Regions from separate parts of the Homo sapiens genome. Here all the other regions are linked to region 3. The links come from fine-mapping of genetic effects on gene expression. A gene starts in region 3. Each other region holds a variant in brackets. All regions are shown on one strand. Distances are between the middles of the regions. Region 1 overlaps NBN (nibrin). Region 2 has its middle 43 kb from the start of CALB1. Region 3 holds the start of DECR1 (2,4-dienoyl-CoA reductase 1). Region 4 overlaps NBN (nibrin).

Region 1 (5,000 bases), 61 kb after region 3:
ATTAGAAAGGGCTTAAGCTTTGAAGTCATTAGAACAAAATACAGTGCTTTGAATTGTAGTGTTTGTGTTCATCTTGAGTTGCTTTAATTGTTAAATGATAAGGTAAGGCCATTTTAAAATAAAAACTCCAAATGAAAAGTGTTAAATTATTTTTAATACATAAATCCCATGACATGTCCAGATCTGTATATAGTAATAGCTATAAAAGAAGGGCAAAAACAGATGGGTTTAGAACAGAGTTACTGCTCTCACTTTTATTTGTAGAATATAAACATCTTTGGCACTTATGCATGATTTACCATCTTTGCTTTTTAATCTTTTTAAAAAAATGGTCATTTTTGTTTGTTAATATGATTTACTGTACTACTTTTATTATTCAATAGGTCACATATCCTGGAGCAGGAAAACTTCCACACATCATTGGAGGATCAGATCTAATAGCTCATCATGCTCGAAAGAATACAGAACTAGAAGAGTGGCTAAGGCAGGAAATGGAGGTTAGTAGGAAGTGAGGCCCAGAAACTTGCTTAAATTGCACTTTGGTCCATTATGGTGGCCTTCAAGCAAATTCTTCTTAAAACCAAATTAAAATAAGTGACATAAAGTCATTCATTCAGGAGCATTCCTGAGTTACAGAGCATTAATCTATACCCTTCCATAACACTTCTTTAAAAGAATACTAAATTTATTTTTGTTAAAAAAAAAAAAAAAGGTGAGACCTAAGAAATTCAGTTTACATCCTAATGAAAAGGGGGAGATAAAAGCCACAAAAATTTAAGGGAAACTAAAAGAATGTGGAGGATATTACAAATATATCACTTAAATGTATGTCAAGGGACTGGCCTTTTTAAATCTGGGGATTGTGTTTTAACAATTCTGAAAATTTCTTATTCATTCTCTTGAATATTAGTTACCTTTTTACTGTTTTCCCCATTATCTCCTTCTGGAATTCCAACTTAACGTAAGTTAAATTTTCTTTTCCATTTGTCTTTCCTGTGTATTTCATTTCTTTGTTTCCCTGGGTTATATTTTTGGCAACTGCTGCAGATCATCTTCCGATTTACTACTACTGTCTTCAACTCTAGTTGGCATTGCATCCGTTCATTTATTTTTTCATTACTGGAAGTCTGTTTTATTTCTTTCTAAATCTTCTTGTTCCTTGCTGTTTTTCAAGCTTCCCCTTTTATATTATTTGCCTAATGATACCATTACCTAAAATGTTTGATCTGTTTTCTGCTCTTATGTACCTTGTTTTCAAGTTTGTGCTTTGTGATTTTTGAATATGAGCTGATTGTTTTCTTTGTAACTCGATCTGTAGGGTTTTCTTGAGTATTAAGTTCAGATGTATTTCCTCTAGAAAAGATACGTTTTCTATCTTCGAGTCTTCTACCAATATGAGACCACTTCAAATTAAAATCTCTCCTTGTGATTCTTTGAATCACCCAGACAGTTAGTATGTATTAATATTTGGACCAGAAGCTGGAGTGAATGAAGGCTGGCTTATCATTAGAAACTTCAAATGAGATTTTTATTTATTTCCTTCACTAAGTGCCAGAATGAAGATGGGCAAGTTTCTTTCCTAGCTCCTTCTGTGTTGTAAGGTTTATTTCTCTTTCTTCTTTTAGTGCTGGGTCTTTTATTAAAGTCAACATCTTGGGTTTTCTTTCGTATCACTCATACCCCGTATAGACATTAAAGCAGAGTTCAGGTTTTTCATGACTTGCAGATACTCATAGGGCAAGGCAAAAGCTGACTGTGGTCCTTGCTAACCTCTCAGGGTTCCTTATTTTGCTTTATAGTGGGTATAGTGTAATTCACTTTTAAAAGTGCTTTTTTCTCAGTTATTTTAAAATAAGGGTTATTTAGGAAAGTCACTTATGAAAGTAGAGTTGTTAAGGTCACTCAGGATACTTATTTTTAAAAAATGAAAGAATGGAAATCACATCCTTTCTCCTTTTCTTTTTTGAAAGAATAATTGGCTTATTTTGTAACATGTGCATTCCACAGAATTATGGCAGTACACAAAGAATGAAGATGTGAAAACCTAAAGCCCAGAAATTACCTATTTAAACAGTTAAGTGAACAATATTCCAGACATCTCTTCATTGAGGAGTAGTGAGAGGCAGGGACAGACTGGGAAGGAAGAGAGAGACATTGATAGGAGGAAGTTAAACTGAAGGCATTGCTGAATTTCTATAAATGTTTCTTCCCTCCAAGATATTTTATTTTGTGAGATCTGTCTAATATTAAGGAGGAAAACTATAAAAATCACTGTAAGTCGGAATGGGTAGTTTTAAACTTCATATTAACTTCACATACAATTATTTGTTGGCTCGCTACAGTGAAAAGTGAGGACATTATTAGTACTTCCTCCCACCTAGCCTCCCTTACCTTATGCCAGTCCTGTTTTTCCCTTTTTAGGTGACTTGCATGCATGACCAGTCATCTTTCTTAAGCTCGAAAGCCAGTAACACTCAGAATACATCTCAGTGTTGATCATTCTCCATTAGTTTTTCCTGACATATAGTATGCTGTTTTGATTTGCAGGTGTAATTCTCTTTCTCAAGGAACTTTTTTCTATTATATATTTTAAATATTTTATATTTGCTGGGCTCTCTATAAGACATTTAAGACATAACTATCCTTTCATTGGATTACCTTTGTCGTCCACATCTATTTTTTCTGCATTCACTGTGGTTTTCTTAGGCTCTTTCACTGTATCAAAATTTTACATTTCAGGTGTGTCTATAATGTTTCTCACCAAGTATGTGACCTTAGGCAAATTACTTAATGTCTCTGCTTCCATCTGTGCAGAATGAGAATAATAATAGTACCTTTATTTCACAGACATATGAGGATTAAATCAGATACTACATATAAATCATTTATAACA[G/A]TGGGAAGTGTTAGCTATTTCTAATTTAATTCTGAAAGGCTGTTATTATGGTTCTTTTACTTAGCATTTGTTCTTTTTTCATTTCATTGTTCTATTATCTGATTTTTTGTCATTATTTCATTGCTTTCATGTTTCTATTTTACTTTTTATTCGTGGATTATTATTTCCTGCAGATTAGGTTCTTTATCTGTTTTTTGCATGTTCTGTTCCAATATCCCTTTTTTTTTTTTTCCTCTAGTAGATGGAGTAGCTTTTCTGTTTTTTGCCTTCACTTGAGTAAAGGGAAATGTCTTTTCCAGATATTCTGTTTGCTACATAAAGGATCATATGCCATCTCATGCAGGGATTACATTCAGAAGCCAGTTTGTGAGACAGAAATTCAGTATAATCAAAATTACTTCTAACATTCTTGTCTTGCCCATAAGAACAGAATTCAGCCAGGCACAATGGTGTGGCTCATGACTATAACCCCAGCACTTTGGGAGCAGGAGGATCACTTGAACCCGGGAGTTAAGAGTAGCCTGCACAACATCTTGAGACCCTGTCTCTACAAAAAAATAAATAAATGAAAATTAAACAAACAAACAAAAAAACACAACAAATTAGCGGGTCATGGTAGTGCATGTGCCCATAGTCCCAGCTACTCAGGAGGCTGAGGTGGGAAGATTGCTTGAGCCTGGGAGGTTAAGGTTGCAGTGAGCCATGATTGAGCCCCTGCACTTCAGCCTTGGTGACAGAGCAAGGCCACATCTCAAAAATAATAATAATAAATAAAATAAAAATTAAAGAACAGAATTCCCTCATGCCTCACTGTCAGTATGGCATTATGCTGAAACAGTCAGTGGCACATGGCATATCCCATCTAGTTTCTGTTGTCTGAAGACATTGAATCTGGGAGAGGAAAGGCTCAGCTGGAGCTGTGTGCAGCTTGGGCTAGCTGTCTCCTGGGATTTTAATTAAATGTCCTATACCAGGGAGTGTGCCCTATATAAAAGAGAATAACCTAGCATTATTAGGTTGTTTACCTAATTTGTTAGGGATCCTTGGAGCCTATGTGTTTGGTCAGTGTCAGCCCTGCTTCTTTACCTTCTACACCATTAGTCCCTTCCCAGCAGCCCACTGGCAGTTGTTTTCCCTGTTCAGGTTACCTTTTCCCCAAATTTGGGGCATTAGTAAGAATCCTCAGGTTTGACCAGTTGTGTAGCACTTTTAATGGATTGAGACAGTATTAGGAATCAGCTGCATCAGAATCATTTGGTTCTTTTTACAGCTGCACTTTTTAAGCGTATGGCATGGCTTAAACTCTTCTCCTTGATTAATTAACACTGTCGAGTTTTGTTTGATTAATTTTAGATGGGAGAAGTTGAGAGAATGATGATACATCATACAGCTGCTGACTTTTTTCTATTTTTTTTTTGCTTATTTCATTAGGAATTAGATGGACTGTGTTCTAGATGATTTCACCAAATCACTTCTCTTTTTGCTAGAATCATTTTAGTTGCTATTGGTAGGACTTACTCTATAACAGACTTGACTTGCTTTTGCTGCATGGCTACTGCTTATTTATGTAAATGTTCTGTACTGCCATCTCATTTCCCTGTTTGCTGCAGCTATTCTTTTTCTATATTCCCTCCCTATTTTTCTTTTTCATCCCTTCTTTCTCTACCTCTGCTGCAGACCCACCAGTCTTGATTTTCATAATCACTGCGTCAGTTCCTGAAGTTCCCTTGAATTTAGGATATTTTCATTGTGTACATCAAACATAAAAATTATTTGAACTGTATCCAACCTGATTTGAATTTGAAAGACTGTGAGTAGTAGTTATCTCAGACCTCTGAAAAATGCCAGTAATATGAGGCATTTCTGTTTCTTAATACTATTTTATATGTTTTTACTGAAATATATGAAATAAAACTGCTTTCTCCTCAGTGGTTTTTCCTTACTATGCTACAACTTTATTCCCCAGGCAACCTCTAAGAATGTTTAGAAAAATGTTGCCAGTAGTTATTTTGACAGCTGTTTTATTAAAATGATGTCTTCCCATTTATGTTTTGCTATCCCTATTAGAAAATATGAAAAGATAAGATGTAATTTTGTTTCACTATAT
Region 2 (5,268 bases), 120 kb before region 3:
TAATCTTCACTTTTGGAAAGAAATATGCTCTCTGCCATATGCTCTCCTCTTAGATTATTATTTGTTTTCTCTCTTTGATAAGGTATTTGTAAAAGAAATCATCTTTCTTTCTGCAAAAGAACATGACAATACAAATGCAATAATATATGGCAACTGAAATTCAGTCTCTTTATTAGGAGGGCAAAAAGGAAACTACATTCACTCTGCTACTGAATTTGAGCCTAGTGACGTCAGATCTTCTGATTCTCCAATGAAAGGCAAAACCTGAATTTTCTATAAAACCACCCAACTTTTACAGGTTCAGAACAAATTCCTATAATGTTTAAAATATTGTTCAGTCTAAACAAAAGTCAGAACAACATTCTGGCTTATGGTGGGTCATGTTTTTACATCACATAAATTCAGTCCCTTGTCCAACTTCCCTACATCTCACCTCAGATTGGGCTGCAGAGCCTGATTTCATAAATTCTTAAGTACATCAGTTATGTGTGGCCACTATCCATTGAAAGTACTGCTTGACATTCAAAGAAATAGTGAAAAAATGAATTTATCCAATAACTTATCAATGTTACATTAACATACTATCATCAGCATACATTGAAATATTTCAATGTGTTAAAGGAATTTTAATCAAGAACAATATGTCAATCATGGCCTATATAACCTGACTCACAAATTAATAGAATAAAGATCAAAACATTATTCTTATCCATTAAAACAAATAATAATTTTTTTCATCACATAGCCAAAAACAGTCTGAAGAGAGTTTGTTTTACAAATCCTACACAATAGTTTTTACAAATCCAGATACATGCATAAAAAATATCAGACTATTTCATTCCATGAGAAACAATGTGCAAGGATTGGCTTTCTGACATTCTTCTCCAAATAGGGAGACAAACTAGCAAATAAATTATTGAATCACAATGAACTATCTGCATGGTCTTCAAATTCAACTATCATTTAACATGTAAACATTCAGGACCAATAAGGCCCAGGAGATAAAGCCTTAAGGAAAGGCCAGGTATTCAGCTTGGAGAACCCAAGTAAGAGTAAAAAAGAGTAAAAAAATAAATTTGATAAAATATTATAAATATATGAAAAATGTTTTACACACATACACACACACACACAGTTTGTCTCCAAAAGACAGAACATATTATGTACTGTATTTAAAAAAAAAAAAGGTCTTGAAAGTTACATTTTCTGTTAGCTACCAGGATCCAAGAATATCTTCTCTTAAATTCAGAAAGAGCCTTATATATCATTAAACATTTAGTCTCAAGGTCGACATTATGTCATACAAAAAAAACTGACCAAATGTGACCATCCCTTTCTTCTAAGACAAGATTTTATCCTGGGATACATTGACAGACATCCTGAATTCCTGAAGTCCCTGAAAGTATGGATAAAATTTTGTGTGTATGTAAATTTTTCTAAGAACAGAGCTTACAGTTTCCATGAATTTTTTTTAAAAATAACTGAAAACATCCCATTGGTTTTAAATCATTATTGTGCTAGGAGCTGTAATGAAAGAAAAAATTTGATCAGTATTTCTGATTAAGAACCTAAGATAGCCAAACCTTATTTAAAAAATAGCTTTCAAGTAAGTCATTAATAATTATTTGGCTGGGTCCTCATTAAATATGCAGTAAAGAATTAGGGCTGCTCAATAAATTCATTAGAAAAAGTAGTGAAGTATTGAAAAAATATATGGATTGAGGAGCCAGACAGACCTATGTTCTATCCAAGTTCTGCCTCTAATTAACTACATGACAAACAAGGTACTTAAACATTCTGAGCCACTATTTCTCCCTCTGTCAAAGGTAATAATTCCTACCTCAACAATGACTACCTTACAGAGTTTCAGAAGAATTAAAAATTCTAACAGTTCCTGTGCCCAGTAGTAATTCAATAACAGTAAGTTTCCTTTCTCTTTTCTTTCCTACTGATTACCTAAAATATCTACTACATTCATTCGTGGTAACTGTGAAGGCCAAATCTAGGTAACTTGTAAAAGTGGCTACAGGATGTAAAAACACCTCAACAATATCCACCAAAATAAACAAAGGGAACCTAATATTCTTTCAACAATGCTAAAGCCAAGAAAGGCCCCATTCATGTGACAACTCTAAAAACTATTAACAAAGAGCAATAAATATTTGACCGAACCTAGAGAGTAAACTGTCACTTATAAGCCTAAGGCTGAGTCACAAAAGGGAAATGGAAAACATTTTCAAGGGTAGTATTCCCTAGCTGATG[G/A]AAGAGACTGCAGAAAAAAATTATGAAGTCAAGAGAGTACTTTTCCTGACCAAAACTGGCTTTGGGATGCAACTGGAGAGACTAAATTGAAGGATTTCAGGACACCCACCAGGGCCCCTTAGATAAAGGGTGTGGCCACAGTGTTTGCACTCAGGGGTCCCTTGGTATGGACAGCACACAAAATAAAGTGGAGTTTTGCCACCTGAAAATATCCACAACTACTCTTGAAGTGGGCAAGTGTAAGATGAGGCCGAGGGCAAAAATTAGACTACATTGTCTCCCAATGCCCACAAGAGAAAAAGCTGCCATTAATCTGTATGGAAGTGAGAAAATAAAGATCATTGCCCTTACATATGTATACCGCCAGATTTCTATTTAAGACTGTACTTTATATTTTCCTACTTCAGAGAAATTAAGATGTTCTTTCTTTTATAAATCTGTGATAATAGTAGATAGAAGCTTCTCAATTAACTTATACTGCAAATTTAAAAATTGACAATATTATGTCTGCACAATTTTAAAAAATCTTATTCTCTTTGAAAACACACAGTCTATAACTACTAATCCACATAGCTGCCAAGGGACAGCATGCCTGCCAACATTTATTATCAATTAATCTAAATTCATCGTTTTAATCATTATTAATAATGACCAGACAACAGAAGTTTCCCAAAAATGTGGGGGGAAAATACAGAAGGCAAAAAAAGAAATTGACCACACTGGGTGATCAGAAGAAATAACTACTAGTGAATATGCTAATTCTGGAAACAGGACAGAACTTTAAAAAAGTTCTAATTAGAATTCTCAATGAGATTTGAAAAAAATAATATTGCTTTTTTGAGAGTAAACTGCTACAAAAGAGCGCAAAAGGAGAACACTTTTTAATAATTAGAAAATTGATTGACAGATTAGATAAATCAATAGAAGCAATGATTAGCAGAAAGAGTATTGCTCTGAAAACCAAGTTTATGAATCAAAACTTGAGAAATTCTTCAAGAAAAGGATTATGATCCTAGAATTATGTATGATATGTCAAACTATCACTCTTGAGTGAAAGTGAACATTTACTCAAGAAACGAATGAATGAATTATAAGTACAAAGCATTACAAACCTATTAAAATTGTGAAAGCTGGTAGCAGATGTTGTTTCTCCCCTATGTGGGCCTGACTTCAACTGAAATTAAAAAAAAAAAAAATTAATGCTATCTTTCTCTGCCAGAGCCCATTCAGACTACAGATGAAGCAGGCCCTACCCCTGGTAGCCTTCAACAAGTTAAATAATAAGAGAAGGTCCGTAAATCCACCAGCTCTCTCATTCTTTGGACAGTATAACTCTGAAATGTGTTTTCTACACTGGCTCCCACAACTGTCCCAGAGTGATTAAGCTGCAGTTGCTCAAAATGACAAATGCTTGCTAACGCATCCTTTACTGGCTTTCCTACCTTCTCTTTACCAATTCCCCATGCCGCTACCTACACTTCCTAGAAATGACTTGCCCTTGAAATCCTGCAAGCCAAGCTGAGATTACACTTCTGCTCCAAACAATTAGTCAAAATTTATAAGAAAAAACTATAATCAATGCAAGAAAGAAAACCACAAGCACAACTGGAAATTTTGGCAGACCTCCCTGAGAATTTGATAGAGAAAGGAGATGTGAGTAACAAATGGCAAGTTTGATATAATGACTTGAATAAAGGAGAATATTATCAAAGATCTGCCTTTCCCATACAGCAGCAAACCAAGAAGACTTCATTAATTTTATGAAACTACTATAACCTTAATTCTAAAAACTAGTCAAATTTGCATGTCTACGTGTAAGCATGCACTCACACACTAACTATAAAGTGATATCATTTGAGAGTGCAATGAAAATCATTCTAATGAAAATGCTAGAAAATCAAATCCAAAATTATATCAAAAACCTATTACCACATGACCAAGCTGACTTTATTCCAAGAAAACAAGGATTACACAATTTAGGAAATCTAATACTTTAGTTTGTTATATTGATATGTCAATAGATTAAAACCATACATTTGTTTCTATAGATGATAGAAAGTCATAAAATATATCTATCCCTGTATTATGAATAGAGCTTCCTTAAAGTGATTCAGACTAACAGAAAAAAGAAAGCATCATCATCTCTAATGGTGAAAATGAGGCACTTCTATTCAAGTCAAAGAGAAAACGAGAATATTTGCTGTCACTTCCATTACCTGACATTGCTCTGAAGTTTCCAGTCAACACAATGAGTCAAGAAAAAGAAGAGAGGTAAATATAGGAAAGCAAGCAAGCAAATTATCAGGATTTGCAAATGATATAATTATCTATCCAAGAAAATTGAGAGCACCAAATGAAGAACTTAGCAATAACAAAGCGTAGTAGATGACTAAATTACAATATTAGTACACAAAATTAGTAAATCCCGTTAGCAATAATCAGATGTTTGAATGGAACAGCCCTATTCATAGTCCTATAAAAAATAAAAACTATATTATTCCTAAACATGAACCTAAAAAAAAACTATACCACTATAAAATCTCTGTGAAGAACACTATAAAAGTTTACTGAAGGGCATAAAAAGACTTTCTAAATAAAGTTCATGACATACGGATTCTTAGATGGGAAGACTCAATTTTGTAAAGATGTCAGTTTTTTCCAACATAATTTATAAATTTAATGCACTGTAGTTCCCTATAGAAATAATGGGGAGAATGGAACTTACCAAACTGATTATTAATTTCCTAAGGAAGAATGTATTTGTGAGAATGACCAAGACACTGTAGACAAAGAAAAATAAGTGAGAATTTGTTCTACTGAACAGCAAGATTTATAAAAAGCTATAGTGATTAAAACAATATGTCATTGGCACAGAAAAAGACAAATAGATGTAAAAGATAAAATAGAGATCCATAAATGTATGAAAACCTTTGTATTATAAATGTGGCACTTCAAATCAGTGGGGAAAAAGGATAGATACATATAACAACTTTGAAACAGCTGGCT
Region 3 (5,268 bases):
TCTTGATAGTTACTATTCTTTTTTTTTTTTTTCTTTTTGAGATAGAATCTCACTTTGTTGCCCAGGCTGGAGTGCAATGGCGTGATCTTGGCTCACTGCAACCTCTGCCTCCTAGGTTCAAGTGATTCTCCTGCCTCAGCCTCCTGAGTAGCTCCTGCCTCAGCCTCCTGAGTAGCTGGGATTACAGGCACGCGCCACCACGCCCGGCTAATTTTTATATTTTCAGTAGAGACAGGGTTTCACCATGTTGATCAGGTTGGATAGTTATTACTCTTGATAAAAACAAAAGGAAAAGAAACATGGCAGTGTGCATGATAGTAATCAAAGAATGAATCAAAAAAGGAAGAATGGTAAATTTTTTTTTTAAAGTTTCACAAAATGAACAACCTTACTACATGAGATGAATTTAGATATATCCTATTCTATTCCATTTTTTTGTTTTTGAGATGGAGTCTCACTCACTCTATCGCCAGGTTGGACTACAGTGGCGCGACCTCAGCTCACTGCAACCTCTGCCTCCCAGGTTAAAGCGATTCTCCTGCCTCAGCCTCCCAAGTAGCTGGGACTACAGGCGTGTGAAACCACACCCAGTAATTTTTGTATTTTTACTAGAGACAGGGTTTCACCATGTTGGCCAGGATAGTCTTGATCTCTTGATCTAATGATCCACCCGCCTCAGCCTCCCAAAGTGCTGTTTTGCTCCACTAAATTGATTTCAAGGCCTACTCATTGGTTATTATTTGTGGCTTAAAATACATATATGAGACTATAGTACATTGAAGGCAGGAATGTCTTTCAACCACAAATTGCCAAAGAATGCCCAATACTTAATAGGTACTTAATTAATTAGTGTTTCCTCATAAACAACTGAATGACTGAATGTTTTCCTCAATAGAACTGAGAGCAACTTGAGAACAGTTGAGAGCAGGGCTCGTATTTTTTAAATTTTGAGTCCCAGGGCATAGCACAGGGCCAGACATAAAGCCAGTCCTCAATAAATATTTATTAAATTGAAATGAGGCCTATTAGCCAGCAGCACAATTTAACACAGCACTTCACAAACAGGTTTTATAACAAATTAAACATTTGCCTTGGTTCTTGGTAACAAAAATATTCAAATTAGGGGTTTTAATTATAACAACTTGTATTTGCCCACAAAAACATGATGTTCCCTGGAACAACCTCCCACATCACAGATGTAAAGACTTTTCTTCTCCCAGGAATTCAAACTTGAGGCTACATGTGCTAGGAAGGGGACAAACCACACTAACAGGTACCTCTCTTGCCTCCCAACCCTGAACCTCAAAACTTCCATATTTTTCTTCAGCAAAGGAATTTCAAAATTGTCAGATTACAATTAATTTTTAAATGAGTTCATTTTCTCCTTCTCAAACTGTATTGTCTAATGGTGTCAGAAGAGCTTGGATAAGGTCTGTATGACCTTATTGCTACAATCCTAATGATGTGTGTTAAAAAATGAAATCTCTGAAGACATCACAGAGCTGTTGTAGATTTCAAATGAGAAATGTCTCTGAAAAGTATCAGAAAATATGGGCTTCCTTTATAATGATCTATAACCCAGTTTTCACAGGGAGAGAAAAAAAATCAGCAAAACCCTAACCCTGAACAAATCTCACTTTTTAAAAGAAAGATACCTTACTTGAGGGAACCACCATACTAATTCTTTGTATTCCTATTTGGAACTACTGCTGCCCATATTTTTTGAAAAACAACACCATGGCTGTCTATTCTATCAAATCAAAAGAAGTTTTTTCACAGTTGACATATTAATTTTTCTACCTGGCTAAAGAAAATGTGCTTTTTAGTTTACTTATAACAATTTTGTAATTTAGATGTGGGGAGGGCTTGTCTTGGATATTATTGCTTCTTTTTGTTTTTGTTTCTCTTTCTTCTTCCTAGCTGTTTTCACTTCCTAGCTATTTCCACTATGGGTGCAATGGAGATGGTGACAGGAGTGTGGGCCAGAGAGAGGGGGAAGCCAGTGTGAGACGGACCTCTCCCAGCTATACATCTGGGAAGGGGAGTCTATAAACAGCTGGGGTTTTGTTTTTGTTTCATTTTTATGATAATTTGTTTGTATTAGTGTTTAATTCCATAACTAACACATAGATGGACTTTCCTCACAACAAAGGACGTCAAAGGTCAGTGCTCGCTCGGCCTGATCCCCTCTCACTCCTTAAGGGGTGGACGGGCGCCGTATCCTTCCCTACCTCTTTCTACCTATTTACACACAAGTTGGAAACTTGCAGAACTGTGAAAACTTCGAAAATCACGTCTCTTCCCTATTCCCCTACACACATCAGGGCTTCATCTGACAGTGGAATACGACCCGGGCCCCGGTGCTCACTCCCGGCGTTGCCCTTCGCTCCGGGACCTGGTGGTCCTCTCTCTCTGCGCCCCAAAACGCCCTGTCCTAGCTCCCTGAGCCCCAGGGACGCCGGGTCCTCTCTTTGTGCCCCAAGACTTCCTGCCCTTTCTCTTGCGCCCCGAGACGTCCTGTCCTCTCTCTCGCTCCCCGGGTTGCTCTGTGCTCTCTTAGCGCTCCAGAACGCCCTGTCCTCTCTCTTTGAGCCCCGGGACACCCTGTCCTCGCTCCCCGAGGCCCCGGGACGCCCTGTCCTCTCTCTCTCTGCGCCTCGGGATGCCCTGTCCTCGCTCCCCGAACCCCCGGGACGCCCTGTCCTCTCTCTTTGCGCCCCAGGATGCCTTGTCCTCGCTCCCCGAGCCCCCGTGACGCCCTGTCCTCTCTCTTTGCGCGTCGAGACGCCCTGTCCTCGCTCCCCGCGCCCCCGGCCGCCTTACCCTCCGAGGAGCGAGGCCACAGGGCAGCCGGGACCCCAGAGTAAAGAAAACCCTGGCCGGTAGCTTCATGTTGAGTCTCCAGAACTCGGGCCGGAAGGCGGCGCAGGCGGTTGGGCGCAGGGGGCGGGACAAAAAGAACAAAGTTCTCGGGGCTGGAAACGCTGCCTAGGCCGCCGGGGGATGGGACGGGGACTGGGACCCAGGCGGCGTGGACGCCCAGCGGCCCTGACCTTCAGAGTCCGGCCGAGGGCGCCGCCTAGCTGGGCCTAGCTGATGCTCTTTCCTGCTCTCTGGGCCAGGAGTGCTTTGTATGGCAGAGAATGGAGGTTCTTTGCGTCCTTGAGCGGGTGTACGAAACCCCGCGCCCTGCAAGGGTTTGCAGATTGCAGCTGCGCACCCCATACACTGCCTATCAAGGGCGAAACTCTTTTTCAGTCGTATGTGTTTATCCCTTAAGTGCGTGTTTAAGTGCAGAGTGCGCGTGGCGCCAAGTCACATATTATCAGAATAATAATATGTTGGATGTAAAACACGGCCTCACTTTCCCTAAGACCAAGAGGCTGAAAAACACTAAGGGCAGCTTCCGGCGTTTTGACTTTTCGCAGGACACACCGCCCCCTGTCGCCGGATGCAGCGTGACTGCGACCGCCCAGCCTTGGCTTTTTTCTCGAAGTTAAACACACGTTAAAGGCAAACACAGATTCAGTATATCATTCTCCATCTTAGTGTAATATACCTGTTGACACAAGGCATTAGCTCAGATCACATTTCTTTCCTCATTCGTAAAATGAGAATATTCATAGCTAATTCAGAATTTTAGATAAAAGAAGATGGGTGTGAGGCCCCAGGCTGAGGCTGATGGTAGATGATATTGAGTGTTTACTATTTGCCTGGCATGTTCCAAATGCTGATAAAGAAACATTTATATCTTCAGAGGAATGTACACTTACATGTAGACATATAGCTTATAAGGTATATAAACTCTGAAAAACTTTGTAATTTTGAGTTGGTCTGGTGATAATTTCCAGGCCTTCTGCCTGTAACTGGTTACAGAAATAAAAACTTTCTTCATCCCCAGTTCATCGACATCTCATTATTGGCAGCAAGAAATAGCAGCCTGACCCTCAGTTTGGTCCAGGAACAAAACTACCACAGATTGGGTGGCTTAAATGGAAATTTGTTTTCTCACAATTCTGGAGGCCACAAGTCAGCAGAGTTGGTTTCTTGTGGAGCCACTGTGGGACCATCTTCTCCCTGTGTCTTTACATGATCCTCCTGTGTACCTTTCCATATCTAAATTGCCTCTTCTTATGAGGACACCAGTCGTGTTGGATTAAGGCCCACCCTCAATGACCTAATTTAACTGGAATTACCTCCCTAAAGACTCTATCTCCAAATATAGCCACATTCTGACATACTGGGGGTTAAGAGTTCAATGTATATATTTGGCTGGGAGAAGAGGGAAGTACACAATTCAGCCCAGAACACTTGCCCTCTTAAATAACTTTTAGACCAGCTTAGGAGGCATTTTCTGTCCTCCCAAAAAAACCTTGAGAATATATCAATAATAAAACTTTTCCTAAGCTCTTGATATATGTATGGCACTGTTATTCTTGACTTCCAAACCAAATTGTAAGTGGGATTCATCTTGTTTCTAAAAAGAAGTTGCAACATTAGTGATACGGTTTGGATTTGTGTCCCTACCCAAATCTCATGTTGAATTGTAATCTCCAGTGTTGGAATTGGGGCCTGGTAGGAGGTGATTGGATCACGGGGACAGATTTCTTCCTTTGGTGCTATTCTCCTGATAGAGTTCTCAGGAGATCTGGTTGTTTAAAAGTGTGTGGCACCTCCCACCCTCTCTCTTCCTCCTGCTCCAGCTGTGTAAGACAGCCTGCTTCCCCTTCATCTTCCACCATGATTGTAAGTTTCCTGAGGCCTCTCAAGTCATGCTTCCTATATAGCCTGCAGAACTGTGAGTCAATTAAACTTCGTTTCTTTATAAATTACTCAGTATGAGGTATTTCTTTATAGCATTGTGAGAATGGAGTAACACAATAAGTAACTTAAAACAATTAATCATTTATTATCTCACAGTTCCCAGGAGTTAGGAGTCTAGGCACAGCTTAGCTGGATCCTTGGCTCTGGGTCTCAGAAGACTGCAATCAAGGTGTCAACTAGGCTGTTTTTATCTGGAGGCTCAGCTGGAGAAGATCTGATCCCAAGCTCATCCAGATTGTTTGCAGAATTATTTTCCTCATAACCATATAACTGACAGCCCCACATTTTTGCTGGATGTTGGCTGGAGTTGCCTTCAGCTTCTAGAAGTCACCTCCATCCCTTCCCATGTGGGCTTCCTCAGCAGACTGCTTACTACATCAAGCCAGCAAGGACAATTCTGTACCTCAGGGAGGCCCCAGCCCATCTTTTAAGGACAATCACCAG
Region 4 (5,000 bases), 31 kb after region 3:
GAATGCCTACAGTGAAGCAGGCAAGATAGACTTGTGGATATAATGATGAGCCAAAAAAAGTTACAGTTTCTGCCCTCATGGCACTTAGTGGAGAAGCCAGCTGTTAAAGAATGACACTAATAAAGTTAGAACTCTGGTAGAGCCATTAGAGAGGCCTAACAGGCTACCATACACATATGTTTAGGAACCTGGCTCAAACTTCATCGAACTAAGCTACAGTTAGCTGCTCCCTGGCTACTGTAAACTGTTATCTATGGCATAATTAAGAATGACAGTGTGAATAATAGAAAGCTGTAGATAATTTAAAAATCATTCAACTTTAGTGTTTTGGGAAAGCAGGAAGAATCTCACATCTACTCAGTCATAGTTTTATAGTCATGTTTGACTGTAACACACAGTCATATGTGTTAAACATTTCCTTACTGTTTTTGTCTGTAACTGGCTCTGTAATCTGTCCTAGTGTTGTTACATTATTGTGTGAACTAATTGGTAAACTAGTTATTTGTATATAAGTAAAGTGTTAGTTGGCTTTTACACTAAGAAAGAAGTATAAGTTATGGGGGAATATTTATTAGGAGATAAAGGATAAAAAGGATTCAAAGAGATATTAAAATTGATCCTTTTTATGTGTCCGAATGTCTACTAACTTTCCAGTGCTCTTATTGTAGATTTAGTTTTTGTTAACAGTTAAAATAGTTTCCACTGTTCTCTGTATATTTTAAAAGTAAAATAAATAGAATTTTAAAGTCGGTTGTTTAGAAAAACCATAACTAACGCAGTTGCCTGCATTCTGTCCTGCCAAGTGAGTCTGCTCTTGCCTGCAGATAACTCATTTGAGATTGCAGCTTCCAGAAATCATTGCTTTAAAACAGACTTACAGCATCTATTGTAGTGAAATTAAAATACATGCATCAGTTATCAAAAAAATTTTAAAGTATTGTAACTCTTCAATCATAACTTAGCTTTACTTTATGAAATATGTATGTTTCCAAGGAGAAGTCCAGGGGAAAGATGTAAGGTAATTAGTTCTAAAGTGCTGGATAGTGACTCTTAATGACTGCAGTGTTTTTACCACGTTGGATGTTGATCTCTGCAGATAGTTAACTCTTGATTTGTGACTGATTGTCCAGGTTGTGAATTTCTCCCTCCCTACATTGTCCCCTTATCATCATCATCATGGGTTAGTAATTTTTACTGAAAGGAAGAGAGACAAGTCGAAATGCCGGTCAGTTATGAACAGCTGTAGCAAAAGATCTGATTATACAGGAAGTTGAAACTCTAGACTGATGAGAGGCTTAAGAATTATCTGTTGATATTTCTCCATTTCTTATTTTCCTTTATTTTCATGGATGATTAAGATGTTCTTATAGCATTAAATTAAAGAGCTAAAACATTATATTCTTTAGTCTTGTTTTGGAAATTTTATTTGAACTGAGTAAATAATGTAAGTTTAAAAATTTCCTGAACTTCTCCAAAGAGATCTCTAACAAAACACTCATAATAGATTGTGCTAGTAGAATTGAAACATGAGCGTTTTAATAGATATTGGCTCCTAAGTAAACACAAGATGCTAATAGAATTTGATCTTTATGGATGATGTTTCTCTCAAACTTTTGTAATTCAGACACCTTGTTTGAGTCATGTGTGTTTAATGTTCATCCTGTTATGATTGTCTACCTTGGATTATTTATTTTGAGATATTAATGATCAATTCTAGCTCTTCTTTGTGTCACCTGCCACCATATTTCTAGAAAACGCGATTAGATGCTTTTTGTCATTTTGTCCCAGATAAAATTCTTACTTAAAAAAAATACTATAAAGGTATTATGGAAATTATGCCTTTTGAGTGTCAGATAGTCACTCCGTTTACAATTTAATAGCAAACATAGTAGTATATAATTAGAATATACTTTAATTATTTTTACAGTTTTTACCCACCTCTTGATGAACCATCTATTGGAAGTAAAAATGTTGATCTGTCAGGACGGCAGGAAAGAAAACAAATCTTCAAAGGGAAAACATTTATATTTTTGAATGCCAAACAGGTAATTATGTTATAAGCTAAATTTTCCTAAAGAATACATTACAAACTAGGATACATTATTAACTCTTATCAGTAGTTGTTAACGTATTTCATTTTGGGATTTTGTGTAAAAGTGTGAAGTAGAATAAAAAAACCCCAGGCACCAGACC[T/C]GCCCAGTGATCATGGCTGTGATTACGGGGTTTCTTAAAATCTGTGATAACTGGCCTATTCATAAATATGCAAGTGAGAAGGACAGGAAACTTAGTTTTAACTTCTTTAGTTAGTAAGCTAAACCTCTTTAGTTAGTAAGCTCACTAAAGAAGTTAAATCAGTTGAATATGTTCTGTGTACCAAAGTGGGGTTTCCAAGAGTTTATGTTGTAGTGGAGAAATGCAGATAAGCCCACAGTTAGAGTGCTGTTAGGAAGTGTGATGAGGAACCACAGAGAGTGTAACAGTTCCAGGGCCGCAGAGACCTGTTGAACTAGGGACTTTCTCAAAGTGGAAGCTGAAATGACCTACTCAAGAAGTAGCACCAAGTCTTCTTGAATTGTACTTCTATGTTTCCCAAATCAAATTCTTATGTGTTCAAAAAATTACTACATTTTACTTTAAAAAATGTTTCCTTCCATTTTTAGCATAAGAAATTGAGTTCCGCAGTTGTCTTTGGAGGTGGGGAAGCTAGGTTGATAACAGAAGAGAATGAAGAAGAACATAATTTCTTTTTGGCTCCGGGAACGTGTGTTGTTGATACAGGAATAACAAACTCACAGACCTTAATTCCTGACTGTCAGAAGAAATGGATTCAGTCAATAATGGATATGCTCCAAAGGTATAGAATTATTCTTTATTAGTAAAAAACTGCAAGTAGGAGATTTTATGTTTAACCTTTTTTGTTGCTTTTCACCTAACAATGTAAAAGTAGATACAAGAATTTTTTTTTTTTGAGACGGAGTCTTGCTCTTGTTGCCCAGGCTGGAGTGCAGTGGCACGATCTCGGCTCACTGCAACTTCTGCCTTCTGGGTTCAAGCAATTCTCCTGCCTTAGTCTCCTGAGTAGCTGCGATTATAGGCACCCACCACCACACCCAGCTAATTTTTGTACTTTTAGTAGAGACAGGGTTTTGCCATGTAGGCCAGGCTGGTCTTGAACTCCTGACCTCAGGTGATCCTCCTGCCTCAGTCTCCCAAAGTGCTGGGATTACAGGTATGAGCCACCGTGCCTGGCCTATTTTTTATTTTTTTGAGACAGGGTCTTGCTCTGTTGTCCAGGCTGGAGTGCAGTGGCACAATCTTAGCTCACTGCAACCTCTGCCTTCTGGGTTCAAACGATCCTCTGCCTCAGCCACTCTAGTAGCTGGGACTACAGGTGTGCACCACCACACCCAGCTAATTTTTGTATTTTTAGTAGAGATGGGGTTTCAACATGTTGGCCAGCCTGGTCTCAAACTCCCATCCTGAGATGATCCACCCACCTCGGCCTCCCAAAGTGCTGGGATTACAGGCGTGAGCTACTGCGCCCGGCCGATACAAGAATTAATAAAAGGTTTTATAGTGTAGTATACTTGAAAATTAATTGTGACTTGGTATATTAGATATAGAATATCTTTATTCATGACAGTTTTACTCAAAAATATTTTATGCTTTTTTGTTACTTTAATAGAATTTGTAGAATTTACCTCTGTAAATTAACAAAGTAGTGTTAAGTTTTTTTACAGAATATGTTGCATTTGAGAAACTTAAAACTCAACGGTAAAAGGTTTTCTGCAATTGCCTAGCGTTGAAATGTATTTGCCCTTTGATGGTTATTACCCATTAGAAAGACATATAAACATTCCTATCCTTATATAGGCTATTATGGGAAAGCAGACAAAAAGTCAGATAGGTTGAAATGATGTTTGTAGAGTGGAGGGAGACTGTAAAAGAGCTAACTGAAGGATTTTTCTTAGACTTTAATTTGCATTAATAATCTTAGCATTGTTGAAGCCAGTAAGTATTGTAGAAATATATGGCTTGGCAGTCTTCTGACTAAATTGCTCTTCATGTGGCAAAAAGTAGGTGAGGACTAAAGTGTTTATATGCCTGAAAAGTCCACAGCCAGCTTCCTACCAAAGATTCATTCTTCCTGTCCCAGGAGTCCTTCTGACCATGGGGGGATTTTCTTTTTTTCTCTTACAGGCTTGCTGAAATAAAAAGTAAAATTTTAGTCATCTATCCTATAAATATTTTACTTAATTGAGATATATTAACTACTGTAAAAAAGAAGATATACTATATAACAAAAATACTATCTTATTACTACAACACAAATTTACTGTAGTTCCATTGTGTTTTAGGCACTGGAAATATAATGAAAAACAAGATAGTCACAGTCCCTGCCATCACTGGAGCTTACTGTCTAGAGGCAGAGACAGAGAAAGACAAGTAAACAAATCATTACACATGTATATAAAGGAAGCAGTAACCCGGCAGTGGGGAAGAAGCTTATTCTAAACAGAGAAGGCCTCTTTTAGGCAATGTCTTACCTATGACCAGTTTTTCAAAGAGCCAGACAAAGAATGTGCCAAGCAGAGCAACAGCAGTAATACATTAAAAAAAAAATTATCCTACATAGCAGGTTCTGGTCTAAGAATTTATGTATGTATAAACATTTAATCCTCAACCTATATATTATTTACTGTTGTGGTCCTCACTGTGCAGATGAGGGAACTGAGGCAGAAGGGGGTTTGCATATAGCAGAGGCAGTGAGCAGGGTGGCCAGGATGTGAGCCCAGGCAGTTGGATTCTGGAGTCCAGGCTCTTTACTTTCAGCACATATTGACACCCTGAGGTTAAAAAAAAGTAGCTGGAGTACCAGGTAGCTCAGACCCTGGTGCCTTGATCATGAGGTGACACTTGGCCCCTGTTACAATATGGTTTTTTGGGTTTTTGGTGGGGGGATGTTGAGACATGGTTTCACTCCAGGCTGGAGTGCAATG

Evidence for each region.
Region 1: its variant is fine-mapped to the expression of DECR1 in whole blood (INTERVAL, PIP above 0.99).
Region 2: its variant is fine-mapped to the expression of DECR1 in whole blood (INTERVAL, PIP above 0.99). The same link has a PIP of 0.9 or more in monocytes and neutrophils.
Region 4: its variant is fine-mapped to the expression of DECR1 in whole blood (INTERVAL, PIP above 0.99).

What each region holds. Positions count from the first base shown.
Region 1 is chr8:89,938,750-89,943,749 of GRCh38, reverse strand. It overlaps NBN (nibrin), which reads left to right. Exons shown (of 16, transcript NM_002485.5): 14 at 384-497. Among named protein-coding and RNA genes, the nearest start is that of OSGIN2, 39 kb to the right of the region's middle. The variant G/A (reference allele first, on the strand shown) is at 2,894.
Region 2 is chr8:90,123,004-90,128,271 of GRCh38, reverse strand. No RefSeq gene overlaps it. Among named protein-coding and RNA genes, the nearest start is that of CALB1, 43 kb to the right of the region's middle. The variant G/A (reference allele first, on the strand shown) is at 2,263.
Region 3 is chr8:89,999,117-90,004,384 of GRCh38, reverse strand. DECR1 (2,4-dienoyl-CoA reductase 1) reads right to left here and starts at 2,908. Exons shown (of 10, transcript NM_001359.2): 1 at 2,824-2,908. The coding sequence starts at 2,892. RefSeq lists enhancers at 2,282-2,421, 3,270-3,564 and a silencer at 2,892-2,991.
Region 4 is chr8:89,968,218-89,973,217 of GRCh38, reverse strand. NBN (nibrin) reads left to right here. Exons shown (of 16, transcript NM_002485.5): 6 at 1,928-2,045; 7 at 2,661-2,854. Among named protein-coding and RNA genes, the nearest start is that of NBN, 14 kb to the left of the region's middle. The variant T/C (reference allele first, on the strand shown) is at 2,194.